Regions from separate parts of the Homo sapiens genome. Here region 2 is linked to region 1. A link means that fine-mapping ties the variant in region 1 to the expression of a gene that starts in the linked region. Tissue or cell type: whole blood. Region 1 holds a variant in brackets; the other region holds the start of a gene. All regions are shown on one strand. Distances are between the middles of the regions.

Evidence for each region. PIP is the estimated chance that this variant, and not a neighbour inherited with it, causes the effect.
Region 2: NBL1 starts here. The variant in region 1 is fine-mapped to the expression of NBL1 in whole blood (INTERVAL, PIP above 0.99).

What each region holds. Positions count from the first base shown.
Region 1 is chr1:19,600,471-19,602,970 of GRCh38, forward strand. The region is part of intron 1 of MICOS10-NBL1 (MICOS10-NBL1 readthrough); the gene reads left to right. The region is part of intron 1 of MICOS10 (mitochondrial contact site and cristae organizing system subunit 10); the gene reads left to right. Among named protein-coding and RNA genes, the nearest start is that of MICOS10-NBL1, 4.7 kb to the left of the region's middle. The variant CTATT/C (reference allele first, on the strand shown) is at 1,187.
Region 2 is chr1:19,642,901-19,645,400 of GRCh38, forward strand. NBL1 (NBL1, DAN family BMP antagonist) reads left to right here and starts at 1,411. Exons shown (of 4, transcript NM_005380.8): 1 at 1,411-1,546. The region is part of intron 1 of MICOS10-NBL1 (MICOS10-NBL1 readthrough); the gene reads left to right. RefSeq lists an enhancer at 423-1,258 and a silencer at 1,157-1,496.

The DNA.
Region 1 (2,500 bases):
GTATTTCAAAATGGAGATGGAGACTCAGGGAATGGCAGCCTGTCATAAGATAGGTAAGAGGTTTGGTGGAAGACATAGACAGGAAGAAAAGGCCAATGCAGGCTTTCAGCTCCATCTTGATAATTTCACTGTGGGTTTTTGTTGTTTTTAAGACAAGGTCTCACTCTGTCACCCAGTCTGGAGTGCAGTGGTGCAATCACAGCTCACCACAGCCTTGACCTCCAGAGCTCAGGTGATCCTCCCACCTCAGCCTCCTGAGTAGCTGGGACTGTGGGTACGCACCACCATACCCATCTAACTTTTGTATTTTTTGTAGAGATGGGGTTTCACCATGTTGCCCAGGCTGGTCTTGAACTCAGGGTCCAAACGATCCACCTACCTTGGCCTCCCAACGTGCCAGGATTACAGGCATGAGCCACCACACCTGGTCCATCTTGATAATTTCATACTCTGGCTTGGCAAAGACTGAAGGGAAGCCATGGTGAATGCACAGCAACTTCTGTGAGTCCTTCTCTGTTTGGTTGTCTTATACCTAAAGTGTTTTGCTTCCAGGGTTCACCAGGGTTATTTTCCCACCTGTTTGCTGTACGATGACTATTATAATCACTCGTGTTTAGCATAGGTGTTGTATAGCTGAGTTAAATAGCTTTCTTAAGCCTGTACTTTAGGCAGTGGTCCTTTAAAAAAGTAATCTTCAAGGATCTTTTCACCCTGAGGCTTGAATAATATCTTAATAGAAAATTATCATATGATTTTGTCCTGTAGGAAGAGGCATTTATTTATAAATACCCTTGCCCCCATTACTATCTTAAGAAAAGCAGTTCTAGGCCAGGCACAGTGGCTCATGCCTATAATCCCAGCACTTTGGGAGTCTAAGGTGGGAGGATCACTTGAGCCCAAGAGGTCGAGACCAGCCTGGGCAACATAGTTAGACCCATTGCAGCAAAAAATATATATATTAGCTGGGTGTGGTGGCATACGCCTATGGTACCAGCTACTTGGGAGGCTGAGGTGGGAGGATCTCTTGAGCCTAGAGGTTGAGGCTGCAGTGTGCTGTGATCGCACCACTGCACTCCAGCCCAGACGACAGAGCAAGACCCTTTCTCAAAAAAAAAAAAAAAGAAAAGAAAAAGGAAAAAAAAGAAAAGCAGTTATATTTTACCTGCTTATTCGGGTTTTAAAACCT[CTATT/C]TATTTTGTATCAAATAGTGTGGAAGAATAGGTGATTTCTAGTATGGTTTGAACTGATAAATTAAGCCCATGGATCTAAAAACAATAGCAAAAATTAAAACCCATCTTTCTCTTGGAAGGGAGCTCTGAGTGATGGGCACAGTGGGCCCTTACTTGTTACACATCCACTTCTCTTTTTTCCACTTTTTTAGCCCTTGTTGCTTTCTTTTTCTTTATTCCTGTCACATTTTTACACTTCTTTTTGACCTCTATTCTTATTCCTGCCACTGCCACTACATACATTGCCTAGTTCATCTATAAAGTTTGACATTGATAGGTCTTTTTTCCTTAGTAACCCTGTTAGCATTTAAGAAGTTCCTAGGTATTCTATTTATTCTTTATCACATCATTTTTCTTAATAGCATGTTTCACCATTTGAAATTTGTAATTGGTTTCTTTACTTGATTGTTTCTTCTCCCTGGAATGTAAACTTCATAAGAACCAGAGGCTGTTGTGTTCACTGTTGATCCCCTAACGCCTGGTTTAGAGGAGGCGTACAATAATTATTGTTAAATGAATGACATGTATTGCTGAGAATTTTGTAGACCGTTCTCTGCCCATATTTGCTTCTCAGAGTGTGTTTATTAACTGAATGAATTAGTATTTAACTGAAAAACTCCAAGTAAAGTAGATTTCTGCCCGTTCACATGTTTGATCATGTATCCTTGTGTTCTTGGGACTTATACCAACTTTTAATTTCATCTGGGAATGTAAATTAACTGTCAGTAGATCTTAATAATAAAGTAGTATTAAAAATGTTTGGGAATAGTCAACTGAGAAACATAAACCAGAGAGCACTTTTGTATTTAAACAAGTAGAGGGATGATGTTGGTTTAAGTGGTAGTGCCAAAGCCTTATTGCAGGAAATTAAAAAGGAGTGAAGAATATTACATTTTATGAATGGCATGTTCCGTTAGTTTTATGTGAATGCGTCATTAATGGGTTTTGCTTATTTTATGGATTTATTTTTAAGTTTTATCAGATTTATTAAATGCTCTGGCTTTCTTTATCCACTCAGTTCAAGGGCTGTGGTGTTTATTTTCCTTGTATGTATGGGTAATCTGTCTTAGTACCCATGAGCATGAATAAGTCACACATTTCTTATTAGTGAGGCTAGAAGGCATAGTGTCTTATCAACCTAGGAGACTTTAAATCGTTCTGGTCTCCACAGAGCCGATGTCCTCAGCTTGGGCTTGTCACCCTGGACTGGATGAGAGGTTATGTCTGTTTTCAATTTCCCAAGGAAAATAAGATTTTAGGAGATGAGAAAA
Region 2 (2,500 bases), 42 kb after region 1:
GAGGGAAATTGACATGAACAGAAGTTCTCATCCTGTGCTCCAGGATCACACTGGAGGAGGGAGATGCTCCCAGAGGGTCTTGGGAAGGCTTTCCAATCTGGAGCTGGAAGAATGTTTGCCCAAGAGATGTACACAGTTATTCTAGAGGGAAATTGACATGAACAGAAGTTCTCATCCTGTGCTCCAGGATCACACTGGAGGAGGGAGATGCTCCCAAAGGGTCTTGGGAAGGCTTTCCAATCTGGAGCTGGAAGAATGTTTGCCAGAGATGAAAGGAGGGGAAGGGAATTCCGGGCAGAGGGAAGGGCGCAGGCAACAGCTAGGAGGCGCAGATGCAGGCTGGGTGTGGAGGGTGCGAGTAGGCTGGAGTACACCAGGGAGTTCCCAGCAGGCCACTAGGAGCCACCCAGGATGCCCGGCAACCTCATGAGTCAGACAAGCAGGGCTGTGTCTATCTGGAAGTTTCCAGCCAAGCTAGGTAAAACACATGGACACAGGTAACTATGCTGTAAAGCAAAATCCCCAAGTCCTACAATCGTGTCCCAGTGGTGTCCCTGGGCCACCACTTTCCAGAAGCAAAGTTATTTTCTCACCCCGTTGTTAAGCACACAGAATAGAGAAGGTACGGCCGCAATCCACCCAAGTGCCCACTGATTAGATAGGAACCCCCGAGGTGAGGCTGGAAGCTGGGGCCAGGAGCTCCACTCTTCCCAGGAGTCAGAGAAGTGAGTTCATTTGCTGGCTTTTTAGTTCCTAATAAGTCCCTGGGGCTTTTCGGGATGCTTAAGCCAAGGGCGTGGGGCCGAGAGCGACACTAGGATAACACTAGGCAAGGCTGAGCAACCCAGGCTACCAACAGCACGGACTTGAACCGGGTCGCATGCCGGAGCGGACGGGATGAGGTGCACCGCAGAACTGGGGACTCCTGGTGCCGGGACGCGGCGGGCTGGGGCGCCCCACTCTCGGGGCAAGTCTGCAATGCCCGGTGCCCACAAAAAGGACACATCCATCTTTGTCACCCCGAGGCCTGGCACGGCCTGACGGCCCAGGCTCGGTAAAAGTCGGGCGGAGAGAGTGGAAGCGCAGAGAAACCCGGGGAGGGCGCTTAAGAACGGGCCAGGGCGCCCGGCTGGGCTGCCCTGCCTCTCGGGCGCCGGCCAGGCGTCCCGGCCGCCCCACCACGCCGTCGGAGCGCGCCGAAGCTCAGCCCGGGGCGGGCGGGCCAGGAGAGGGCCCGGGGCCCCTGCCGCCGCGGCGCCCCCTCCTGCGCACCCGGAGGGAGAGGCCGCGCGCGCCCGCCCGCTCTTTCTGCGCGCGGCCCTCCCCGCTGCCCCCGCCCTCGCGCCCTGTTTGGAGGGAGCCACCCTGACGTCGGAGCCGCTCCCCCGCGCCGCGCGCCCGCCCGGGGCCGCAGACAGCGCGCAGCGCAGCCCAGCCGAGCGTCGCGGGGCCGCCCCCCGCCCTGCCGGCCGCCTCGCCGAGCCTCCTGGGGCGCCCGGGCCCGCGACCCCCGCACCCAGCTCCGCAGGACCGGCGGGCGCGCGCGGTAAGTCCCGCCCGGGTCGGCACGCGGGCGCCCGGCTTCCAGAGGCTTCGGCCGCGGGGGCAGTGCCGCGCCCCCAGCCCGGAGCTGCGTCCCCCGGCGCGTCCGGCGGCCGCGGGCACCGGGTGGAGGCGCCGCCGCCGAGCTCAGGAGCCCTGGGGGACCTGGCGGGCGCCTCCGGACGCCGGCGCTGGGGACGTGGGCGCGGCACGGGGTGGCCGGGGGGCACCGCCGCGTCCGGAGCCCGTCCCCAGACTCGCCCCAGGGTTCCGTTTCTGGATCGGAGTTTCCGCGGCCGGGGGAGAGAGGGAGCGAGGGAGGGAGATGCGTGGCCGGGCGGGCCGGGCTCGCATGTCCCCCGGCCGTGCCCGGGCCTCGCCGCGCCGCGCCTCTCGGCTCTGGACGTTTCCGCCTCCCGCGGCCCCCTCTGCTTCGGTCCCCACGTCCGTGTGTCTGTCTCTCCGTCGCTCCGTTTCCGCCGCTCACTTTCCCCTGGTCTGCCCGTCTCTTTCCGTTCCCCGCCTGCCTCCGTGTTCGGCTGCCCGCGTTTGTGTCTCTGCCTCTGGCTTTTCTCTCCCTCTCTCTGTCTCTGCGCTGCCCTCTGTGGGGGTCTCGCCCTGTGTCTGCGCCTCTCCCTGATCCCCCGCCCTCCGATCCAGACAATCCCCCAGTGTCGGAGGCTCGCCTTCCCCCAGCGGGGTTCACGAATAGTTTCCTAGACCGGGTGCGGCAAACCCTCCCCCTGCCTCCCGCCGGCCCCGAGGCCTGGCCCGGGTCATCTCCCTGGAATTGAGTCTGGGGCAGGGAGAGCCAGCCTTTCCGGGGGCTCAGTTTTCTTAAGAATTCCACCCCCGCGAGGCCGGCTGGACGACAGGCCCTGCTGCGGGCCACCTGCCCGGCCCGCTCCCAGGGCGGGGCGATTCTGATCGTTTACAAGCGGCGGCAAAGGGGGCAGCC